3 linked regions of the Homo sapiens genome follow. The protein of the gene in region 3 purifies or fractionates together with the protein of the main gene of each other region. This does not show direct contact. Each region holds a gene or a part of one and is shown on either strand. Other genes may lie near its edges.

Region 1 (3,600 bases), on a different chromosome or scaffold from region 3:
TTGCCAGAGGCACAATTAAGCATTGTTGCCTTGTTAAGCATTGTATCATTAGCCCCTATCGCAAAGTGAGAATTCGCTCAATATTCCCTTTAAAATACCTTTTAGTTGATACTGCCAAATCCTTTTCTAACCCCATCAATTATTTGACTCTAAATAAATCCGTTAGGAACAGTGGTAGCTTCAGGTTTCCATACAGGTGGGACTTGGAAGTAGCAATATGGTAAGAATGGGGATGTAGGGGTTTATTTAGAAACTGCATTTGCATGGCAAGAAAGCTAGTTTCATATATGTTGTTTATTTGGACTGGGGTTACGGAGATAACGAAGAGGGGGTAGTTAAAAGCCTCTTCAGGCCATGCCTTATCACAAACGTGTGGGAAAGGTTAATATTTTCCAGGATCGCCAGTGCGTTTGAGGAACTGTTAACACACTCTTTCATTTAAAAGGAAAGTTTTTAGTTTTATTTGCCTATTAATTCTAAGGCAGGGATGACTCCTCAATTTGCTTCTTCACCAATATAAAAAATGTCCATGTATTGGTGTTTACTTTTTAAAAGTAAGGCTGGTATTAATTTACCTCAAAGCACAGATGAGTTCATAAATAAGCAGTTATGCTTTCGTGGGATTTTCCATAAACATACAAATTGTATTTGAAAAAAAATTATATGACGAGTCTATACCTCACACTCTAAAAAGTTACCTTTCAATTATATACTCTCCCTTACACTACTCCCCACATATCAACGTTTCATTGGTCACTTCATTAACATAAGTTTGGACTAGTTTAAAGTAGTGAGGGGTAACTTTTTACTTCGAACACTGAAGGCTGCTAACTTTCCACTTTAGCAATTTAGCTAGTCAGGTTTTATCATCTGTTCTGGAACAAGTAGATGCACTTACCTATTGTGAGGTCGTGGACAGGCTGGAACCGCTTATCTGTAAACTGCAGGAGGAGACATGACTTCCCCACACCTGAAAGAGAAAGCACACTCCCGGAATCACGCAGCCCTGGAACACCTTCCAGAGTATGGACTTCCCGGACCAGAGAAGGGGGGCTCCCGAGCCCCGCCCCCGGCCGCCCCGAACCGCCCCGCCCGTCTCGAATCGCCCAGCCCACAAAGTGAGCCCCGCCCCCGCCACCCAATTTGGGAGCTTCGAATGCCCGCCCGAGCCTTGAAGGCGAACCACCTGAGGGTTACCTGTGTCTCCGATGATGATATACTTGAAGAGATAAGCATAAGTCATGGTGTCGCGTCCTCTGGGTTCCGGGTCCGCCCGACTTCTATAGCCACTTACCTCCGACCTCTCTAGCCACTCAATCTACCGATCTTCTTCTTCTCCCCCTTCCCCCCGCTCCCCCGCCCCTCCGGCTCCTCTAGCCCAGATCACGTCTCTATTGCACTCCCCGGAATCATCCTTAGGTCGGGAGTACCCTACGCCACCTCCAGGGACGCTTCTAGCACTTCTACATGCCCTTATCCCTCCAAACTCCAGGGGGCGATAGCCCAGCGCCTGACTCTCTGCAGCCCCACGGCGCTCCTTCCAATCAGCAGAGAGAACACACGTCCTTGCGGAAGTGACGGCAGTTCCGAGTCCAGTGGGGGCGGTGGGAGCGATGAGGGTCTGAGACGGTGGGAGCGGTTGTGTGAAGATGGAGGTAGGAACCTGATAGCTAAGAAGGCTGGCGAGAGAACGCGGCCGACCGGGTTGAAGCAGGGACGGGAAGCCGGGCGGAGAGGCGACTGACGGGAGAGGAGAGAGAGCGGGGTTTGGGGAGTGTTGTCAGAATGTCAGGGTCAAAAGCCATCGCTCCAAGCTGACTCCCTGCTCCCCCTAACTTATCCCCGCGACTTTCTTTTGGTTTCCAGTTTCCCGGAGGAAATGACAATTACCTGACGATCACAGGGCCTTCGCACCCCTTCCTGTCAGGGGCCGAGGTGAGCCAGAGCTGCCGACGCCGCGGGGGTAGGGCCTGAGGCAGCGGTGGGGTAGGGTAGTGGGGAGGAGAGCACGGACTCCGGGGACGGGGGCTGGGAACCAAGGGCCGCAATTGGTGTTTAGAGAAAAGTGGCGGTTGCTTCTAGAGCCTGTGGGGACTATCTGGGGAAGTCTTGGGAAGTTGCTGTCATCAGAAAGCAAGGTATTGGAAAGAGATAACCTGTTTAAAGAGAAAAGGGATTCTGGATTAGAAGACAGAGTGGAATTGTCTCCTTTCTCTGGGGAGAAATAGCTACAGTAATCTTAGGGGATCGCAGTGGAAAGAAAATGTTTCAGCAGCTGAAGAAATTGGGGTTGAGGGGAGGAGCTTATTGGTTTTCTTTTGTTTTGAGACAGAGTCTCGCTTTATCGCCCAGGTTGAAGTGCAGTGGTGCGATCTCGGCTCACTGCAACCTCTGTCTCCTGGGTTCAAGCGATTCTCCTGCCTCAGCCTCCCGAGTAGCTGGGATTACAGGCGTGCGCCACCACGCTCGGCTAATTTTTGTATATTTAGTAGAGATGGCAGTTTCACCATATTGGCCAGGCTGGTTTCGAACTCCTGACCTCAGGTGATCCACCCACCTCGGCCTCCCGGAGTGCTGGGATTACAGGCCTGAGCCATTGCGCCCGGCCTAAATTTCCTACTTTGATAAAAAATTTGTGGTTACCTTTACCTACATGGTGTCAGCTTGTTTTGCTAATGTCAGGAGGAAAGGAAATAGCTGCTAGAGAATATAAAAGAGTTGAGTAGGACATGTGTTTCAATTTGCCAGTGACTCAGACGTTGGGCACATTACTTCATCTTTGTATGTCACAGTTTCCCCAGCTGTCAAACAGCTGTAATTATAGTTTCTTATGCTGTTTTAAAGTAGAAGTAAAGGTTATGATGAAACCCTGAAGTGTTCGTTAAAAAAGTTTGGTTGAAATATTGTCATAATATAGATATGTATCACTTGTTTGGGAGAGGCAAAAGAGAATGGTGGAACAGACAAAAATTTCTGTCTTTGAGAAACTGAAGTCTTGAACCATCTGCCATTTTTTGAGGACTTTTATATTTATTTTCAAAAGTGGTGTGGACCATTTGCATCAGTTTTTTTTACCAAGAATTGTCAGTGGCTGTTGCATGGGCTTATCCTATAATCCTAACGTTTTCATGGATGAAAATGGGGTTGACAAGGGCCAGTTGCTAGTTTAACTTTTTTTTTCTTTCTTTTTTTTTTTGAGACAGTCTCCCTGTAGCCCAGGCTGGAGTGCAGTAGCACGATCTTGGCTCACTGCAGCCTCCACCTCCTGGGCTCAAGTGATTCTCCTGCCTCAACCTCCCAAGTAGCTGGGAATACAGGTGTGCGCCACCACACCCAGCTAATTTTTTTTTTTTTTTTGAATTTTTGTAGAGACGGGGTTTCACCCTGTTACCCAGGCTCTTTAACTCCTGGCCTCAAGTGATCTGCCCGCCTCAGCCTCCTAAAGTGCTAGGATTACAGGCATGAGCCAATGTGCCCAGTGCCAGTTTAACTTTTTTGTTGCTTTTATTTATTATTCTCATAAGCAGGATAAGTGTGAATCTAGTATGCAGCAAACTTTGAAATGATATAAAACCTAAATCTGGGCCCAGCACAGTAGCT
Region 2 (3,823 bases), on a different chromosome or scaffold from region 3:
CCATGGATGCTTTTATCCAAGCTCTGCCTTGCTGATGATAAAACTTAAGGTTGTTAACTCCTTAGTATAACTGATGTTAGTTATTTAAATAACTACACAGTAAAACGGCATTTTGAGAGAAAATAAGCCAGCTGTTGATTTGGTCTGATGTATTGAAGACAAGTGAGATTTGGGGCAGTTTTACTTTGTAAATGACCTCCTTCAAGGAGCCATGGTGGCTAGCATTTTTTTTGCATAGCAGGTGGTTGTAACTTACTTCACATCTTGGTTTGCAAGAAGCATCTTTGCTTTGAAGAAGGCCATTGTCAAAGTGCAAGACCATGTCAGGCTCTGCAGAATTGCCTGACTTGTTTTAGTGATTTAAATATGATCTCTGCCCTGGCTCACAGAAAGTGCTTACAGATTTAATCCTCTGATACATAAGGGTTGTTCTGAAGGTAGGGAGTGTTCAGATATTCTGAAACTCTAAGATTGTTTAAATAACCCATATGTTCATCTTTTTGATGCAGTATAAAACGTTCATATTCTGGTGTTTAGCCATCCCTGGTCCTAAAGATAATAAAGGACAAACATAATGGTTTAAAAAGGGGAAGGTTTCTTAATATGCTAACCAAAAAAAAAAACAAAAGTAATCTTTCCTAATGAACACCTGTAATTATTTATTTTTTTATTTTATTTTGGAGACAGAGTCTCACTCTGTCACCCAGGCTGGAGTGCAGTGGTGGGATCCTGGCTCACTGCAACCTCTGCCTCCCGGGTTCAAGCGATTTTGGTGTCTCAGCCCCCTGAGTAGCTGGGATTAACAGGCATGCACCACCACGCTCGGCCAAGTTTTTGTATTTTTAGTAGAGATGAGGCCAGGCTGGTTTTGAACTCGTGACCTCAAGTGGTCTGCCCGCCTCAGACTCCCAAAGTGCTGGGATTACAGGCATGAGCCACCGTGCCCAGCCTGTAATTATTTGTTTACAGAGCAGGTAATTTTTACACTCACATCCAAGTTGTCAGTTTCTAATTCCCTCATTGATAAGAACTCTGATGTGAGCCCTTGCCCTTCCTTTCCCATCAGTATGTTGGTCATATGCCCACTTCCTCTCCTCCTAGGCAAGGTGGGAAAGCTCTGTTGGAGACAGATGATCTGCAGCTTGCAGGAGTCCTTTTTTAAACCACAGCATTGAAAAAGGATTACTCTCCTTGTGCCCGCAGTGCCCTCTTGCCTGTCAGTAGCAGGAGGCAGCAGTGAAATCTGACAGAATTGTGTGTGACGTTGTGCTTGCGGGGGATGTGACACACAGGAGCGCTCTGCATTCTGAGCCTAGGGTGTTCCTCCTCATAACTGGGCAAATGGACATGCAGTTGTAGCCCAGCAGTGGTCAGCTGTAGAAATTAGTGAGGTGATTTGATGTCTTTGAAAGCACAGTCCTATTACAACCTGTAACCTGTTGTGCAGAATCACAGTACCAGTCAGCCCACTTGACTAGGTGAGGATTCCTGATGGTGAAGCAGGGAAATTATTGATGTTATGTGGACTTCACCATTTAACTTAATTTACAATTGAGGCCATTAGTTGACCTGAGAGATTAAAATATGAAGGAGATAATATTCTGGGTGTCAGTCGCTTTGTAGATAAAGAACTGGAAAGTCATTCAAGACCAAGAAGGAAGGATTTCATTTCCATGGAGCTTATGGAATTCCAGGATAGAGTTTGATATTTTAAGATCATACCTCTGTATCCAAAGCATCAAGAACAGATGATGTGTTTGTGGATCTTGGTGATTTGTCTGAAATCTCCAGCTTCCCCACTTCACTGGGGTTTACTGTCATCCCTCTTCTAGAAGGTAGTGGTCATCACCGACAGTAAAGCTTACAGCAAATGAAAACTCAAAATGTAGTCTACTCAGTGGTATATTACCGAAATGTGTTCTTAGACTGTGAAAATTAAAGTTTTTAATGGATTGGCTTTACTCGAGGTGTAGAAAACTCAAGATGCTTTATTGAGAACAGTAGACAGTGTTTTGCAGCCACATCCTATCTGCCTTGAAAAAAATGGTGTCACTTTTATTTTTTTTACTAGAGACTGGGTCTCACTCTGTCCCCAGGCTGGAGACCTGAACTCCTGGGTTCAAGCGATTCTTCCTCCTCATCCTCTTGGCTAGCCGGATCTATAGGCACACACCACCACACCTGGCTAATTTTTTTTTCTTTTTCTTTTTTTCTTAAAGACAGGGGTGTTGCCTAGGCTGTTCTTTAACTCCTGGCCACAAGCAGTCCTCCCACCTCAGCCTCCCAAAGTGCTGGGATTACAAGCGTGAACCACAGCTCCCTGCCTTGGTGTCACTTCTCAATGCCTGAAGTGTAACCCCATCTGTTAGGAAAATCAGGATGGGAGAGGGCAGGGTGTGGAAACAATTGTGATAATCAGAACATGGAAGTCTTTCTGCTGGTGACTTTGCAGAGAAACTTAAAGGGTTCTTTTTTCTTTTCTTTTCTTTTTTTTTTTTTTTTTTTTTTTTGAGTCTTTCTTTGTCACCCAGGCTGGAGTGCAGTGGCAGGATCTCGGCCCACTGCTGCCTCCACCACCCAGGTTCAAGCGATTTCTCCTGCCTCAGCCTCAGTTGTTGAGTAGCTGGGACTACAGGCATGTACCACCATGCCCTGCTAATTTTTGTATTTTTGGTAGAGATGGGGTTTTACCATGTTGGCCAGGCTGGTCTCAAACTCCTGACCTCAGCTGATCCACCCACCTTGGCCTCCCAAAGTGCTGGGATTACAGGCGTTAGACACCGCATCCGGCCCAAAGGATTCTTGATAACATTTTTGTGGTTTATACTTTTTGCAGAAAAGAACTCAGTCGTTTATGGGAATGCTTAATGTTGGAAGTATTTACTGTTTTTTGTTTTGGTTTGAGTCTTATTTTCCTAAATCTGTCAAATATCATGAGGCTATTGATTTCACTGAAATGAATATGATGTGGCATATTGTTAAAATTATCACCTACTTTTTAACAGGATTATTTTAAAACAGCAAAATCTTCGTTGGCTTATTTTTATACCACTTGTGCCTTTCTTAGGTTCTGAAACTTCATTAGAATTCAGCTAGGGCTTTTTTAGTATATGCTATTTCTTTAATATGTTTTTATTTAAACAATTAAGGGGCCTTTATGTGGCAAGGAAAATACTTTTTTATTCCTTATAAATAATCTCAAACTTGTCTTAAATTTCCTTCCATAGTTTCCATCTTTGCTTTGCTTTTTGCCAGCAGCTAACTTTCAAAAGTTAGTATTGCTTATGAGAAAGAGCTGGTGTTGTAAATAATCACCAATGCTATTTTATTTATTTATATTTTTTGAGACAGGATCTCACTCTGTGGCCCAGGCTGGAGTGCAGTGGCATGATCTCGGCTCAATGCAGCATCTGTCTCCCGGGCTCAAGTGATCCTCCCATCTTAGCCTCCCGAGTAGCTGGGACTACAGGCGCACGCCACCATGTCCAGCTATATTTTGTATTTTTGGTAGAGACTCAATTTCACCATGTTGCCCAGGCTAGTCTCTAACTCCTGAGCTCAAGTGATCCTCCCACCTCGGCCTCCCAAAGTGCTGGGATTATAGGCCCAAGCCACCACATCTGGCTGCTATTCTTTTATAATTCAAATTTTTACCAGTTTGTTTTCAATAAAAATGTGTGGAAGTTTTTATTATTGCTCGTGTCAGTGATTTGCCAGAAAAATAGATCAGATACATTTCTACAGAGCAACCTTCGCTTTTAACAGTAATAATACGTTTTCCTGAATCTCCCTTTCTAGCCAGATAAAGAAATATTAATACTTC
Region 3 (3,823 bases):
GTTGGCCAGAAGAGAGGTGCCATAGATCAGAGATGTTATTTGCCAAGTACAAAAGGAAAGAGTTACAAAGTATTTTTTCATATATTTAGAAACAAATTTTATTCTTGTTTTCACATCTATAAAGGAAAATAAAAAGTCTTCAGATTGTTGTAACAATTAGGTGTGTTATACATAAAGCAACTAACGTAGCTTTTTAAAAAAATGTCAGTTTTTGAGGAACTGGTGGATTTTGGTTACATGTATAAGTTCTTTAATGGTGATTTCTGAGATTTTGGTACACTCATCACCCAAGCAGTGTACACTGCACCCAACGTGTAGTCTTTTACTAATGTAGATTTTAACCACATATTCTGAAATATTAGGTCTTTTTACTCCAGAGTGGTGTGATGACATCAGAGTTGAAAGTTATCCAAGTAGAACACAACTCTAATTCATTGTTCCATTTTTTAAGGGTTTGGTTTTTAAGCATATCTCATGTTCTTCTTAAAACTTTGGGTTACTTTCTCCGTTACATAAATTTTCACAATATTTTCTCAAACCTCCCATTTTCTGTTCCTGGAAGAATGTTACTTTACATTATTTAGGCATTTCCCCTTTCTGTCACCTGCAGAGCTCCGGAAATTGGCCTCAGTCCTTGTCAGCGACTGGATGGCTGTCATCCGCTCTCAGAGCAGTACCCAGCCTGCTGGTAAGCTCCTTAGTCCTTTATCCTTTGTATTTATTTCTTTCCTATTGGGATGTGGCCTTTAGGTGCTCCCAGTCTGCTTCACCTCTGACAGTGTTCATCTAAATAAAATCCTTTTCTGCTTTGTTTTTTCACAACAGAGAAAGATAAGAAGAAACGTAAAGATGAAGGAAAAAGTCGAACTACCCTTCCTGAGCGACCTTTGACAGAGGTGAAGGCTGAGACCCGGGCTGAGGAGGCCCCAGAGAAGAAGAGGGAGAAGCCCAAGTCTCTTCGCACCACAGCACCCAGTCATGCCAAGTTCCGTTCCACTGGTAAGACTGGCGGCTGGCCTCTGGAGGGTTCATGGGCATGTGCACACCCAGAGCCTTATGGGGGAATCATTTGATGTGTGGTATGTTAATCGTAAGGAAGAGGGAAGACTAGCAGAGGAAGCTTTGGTTACAAGGCTAGAAGAACATTTGCGGGTGAGAACGGGAGGAAAATTCGGGGGTCTGGGGTTTGAGTTCAGCTGCCCACACCGTGCTTCTTTCCCCAGGACTAGAGCTGGAGACACCATCCTTGGTGCCTGTGAAGAAGAATGCCAGCACAGTGGTGGTTTCTGACAAGTACAACCTTAAACCCATCCCCCTCAAACGTCAGAGGTATGGACCATATTCTCAGGCTCTGAATGGGGTGGATCTGTGGACACAAGGGAGCAGGAGGGGGTGAGTCGGAGATGTTGATGACAGTTCCTCTTCTGACAGCAACGTAGCTGCTCCAGGAGATGCCACTCCCCCTGCAGAGAAGAAATACAAGCCACTCAACACAACACCTAATGCCACCAAAGAGATCAAAGTGAAGATCATCCCGCCACAGCGTGAGTCTAAAGTGGGGAAGATGTACTTTGAATTAGGAGCAAACTTTTTTTTTTTTTTTTTTGGAGACAGAGTCTCACTCTGTCACCCAGGCTGGAGTGCAGTGGCACGGTCTTGGCTCACTGCAAGCTCCGCCTCCCGGGTTCACGCCATTCTCCTGCCTCAGCCTCCCGAGTAGCTGGGACTACTGGTGCCCGCCACCACGCCCGGCTAATTTTTTGTATTTTTAGTAGAGATGGGGTTTCACCATGTTAGCCAGGATGGTCTTGATTTCCTGACCTCGTGATCCACCCACCTCAGCTTCCCAAAGTGCTGGGATTACAGGCATGAGCCACCGCACCTGGCCAGGAGCAAACTCTTATGGGAATGAATGTCCCTGGGAACGAGAAGTTTTTTCCCTTCTCTTTTATTATTTCCCTCCATTTTCCTTTGATTTCTTGGTATCCCTTACTTTTTGTACCTCTGGAACTCCCGTTTCAGGGGTCACTTAGGAGTAATTTTAGAGATAAGATAGGGACGTGTGCCATTCTGTGACTGGTCAGGGGCACCTGGTAAGGTGATCTGTCATGTTCACAAGGGCTCACTTCGTCAGCTACCTGAGCTATAATTCACATCCAAAGCTATGGCTTGCCTGCCATGAGAAACCTAGAATAACAACAAGAATATCCTGTGTGAATCCTCCTGCATGTGCTTCCTGGTCCTCTTGAGCTTATCGTGTCCTAAGTTGAGGCAGGGTCTTCACTGGCTCATTTTATGCCTGGACTGTGTTTGCAGGTGTAGGATTATGAAGGAGGTCTGATGATGCCATTTGGTGCTCTTTCTTTTTGTAGCTATGGAGGGCCTGGGCTTTCTGGATGCTCTTAATTCAGCCCCTGTTCCAGGCATCAAAATTAAGAAGAAAAAAAAAGTACTGTCACCTACGGCTGCCAAGGTATGGGCTCCCAGAAGTAGGTTTCAGTGACAGAGTATAAAAGGTAAAGTAGAAGAAAGGGCACAGCAGCTAGGAGTTGTCGGGGAGGACAACAAGAGGCGTTTTGCCTTGGATATAGACTGGTGCAGGTGAGACATTGTGGAGACAGAGTCTTCCTTTATATAGGAACTGTTGGGGGACTGTGCCTGGGACCCTGGACTAATTGCCTTGCCCTTGGCTTTCCAGTCAGTTCATTAACTTCCTTTTCTTTCACAATAGCCAAGCCCCTTTGAAGGGAAAACGAGCACAGAACCAAGCACAGCCAAACCTTCTTCCCCAGAACCAGCACCACCTTCTGAGGCAATGGACGCAGACCGTCCAGGCACCCCGGTTCCCCCTGTTGAAGTCCCGGAGCTCATGGATACAGGTAATCTAGAAACTGGTTCAGTTTGGGGGGTTTTCTGAAAGGAGGGATCTGGGTCTGAAACCTCTTCTGCTTCCAGCCTCTTTGGAGCCAGGAGCTCTGGATGCCAAGCCAGTGGAGAGTCCTGGAGATCCTAACCAACTGACCCGGAAAGGCAGGAAGAGGAAAAGTGTGACATGGCCTGAGGAAGGCAAACTGAGAGAATATTTCTATTTTGAATTGGATGAAACTGAACGAGGTAAGAGGTCATTTCCTACGTAATAGGTGTGTTTAAGGGATTTTGAAAGGACTTGGTTGTGCTTACTTTCCCTCTTGCTTTTCTTCCCCTGCCGACAGTAAATGTGAATAAGATCAAGGACTTTGGTGAGGCGGCTAAGCGAGAGATACTGTCAGACCGACATGCATTTGAGACAGCGCGGCGTCTGAGCCATGATAACATGGAGGAGAAGGTGCCCTGGGTGTGCCCCCGGCCCCTGGTTCTGCCCTCACCTCTTGTCACCCCTGGAAGCAATAGTCAGGAGCGATATATCCAGGCTGAGCGGGAGAAGGGAATCCTTCAGGAGCTCTTCCTGAACAAGGAGAGGTGAGCAGAGTGGGGTTCGTGCCCTGGGATGTTGAGTGCTTGGACACTCCTGAGGGAACATGAGCTGGGGTAATTACGGGGTGGAGGTTAGAAATTACTTTCAGGGTCTGAATTAATAACTTGACTATCATTCTTTTTTCTCTCACCTGTGTTGTTCCTGATAGTCCTCATGAGCCTGATCCTGAGCCCTACGAGCCCATACCCCCTAAACTCATCCCCCTAGATGAGGTAAGTCAATGTTCTGTGATGATGGAAGTTGTGATGGTCATTGAATTCGGTGCATCTTTCATATGAGAATGTCTCTGTTCTGTCAATCCTGATTTTTTTTGTTCTTCTTTCAGGAGTGTTCCATGGATGAGACTCC

Evidence for each region.
Region 1: the proteins of PPP1R10 (region 3) and TOX4 purify together in Homo sapiens (affinity purification with mass spectrometry; 4 studies listed by BioGRID and IntAct, with this or other methods). This does not show direct contact.
Region 2: the proteins of PPP1R10 (region 3) and PPP1CC purify together in Homo sapiens (affinity purification with mass spectrometry; 10 studies listed by BioGRID and IntAct, with this or other methods). This does not show direct contact.

What each region holds. Positions count from the first base shown.
Region 1 is NC_000014.9:21,475,630-21,479,229, forward strand, and holds the start of TOX4 (TOX high mobility group box family member 4), read left to right. Parts: upstream 1-1,565; 5' UTR 1,566-1,649; coding exon 1,650-1,655; intron 1,656-1,866; coding exon 1,867-1,935; intron 1,936-3,600. Other genes in the region: RAB2B (ras-related protein Rab-2B), read right to left, coding at 899-970, 1,198-1,243. UniProt on the Homo sapiens protein: Transcription factor that modulates cell fate reprogramming from the somatic state to the pluripotent and neuronal fate. In liver, controls the expression of hormone-regulated gluconeogenic genes such as G6PC1 and PCK1.
Region 2 is NC_000012.12:110,736,165-110,739,987, reverse strand, and holds part of PPP1CC (serine/threonine-protein phosphatase PP1-gamma catalytic subunit), read left to right. Parts: intron 1-3,823. UniProt on the Homo sapiens protein: Protein phosphatase that associates with over 200 regulatory proteins to form highly specific holoenzymes which dephosphorylate hundreds of biological targets.
Region 3 is NC_000006.12:30,603,644-30,607,466, reverse strand, and holds part of PPP1R10 (serine/threonine-protein phosphatase 1 regulatory subunit 10), read left to right. Parts: intron 1-610; coding exon 611-688; intron 689-825; coding exon 826-999; intron 1,000-1,223; coding exon 1,224-1,329; intron 1,330-1,431; coding exon 1,432-1,544; intron 1,545-2,372; coding exon 2,373-2,473; intron 2,474-2,731; coding exon 2,732-2,879; intron 2,880-2,955; coding exon 2,956-3,114; intron 3,115-3,212; coding exon 3,213-3,459; intron 3,460-3,623; coding exon 3,624-3,687; intron 3,688-3,800; coding exon 3,801-3,823.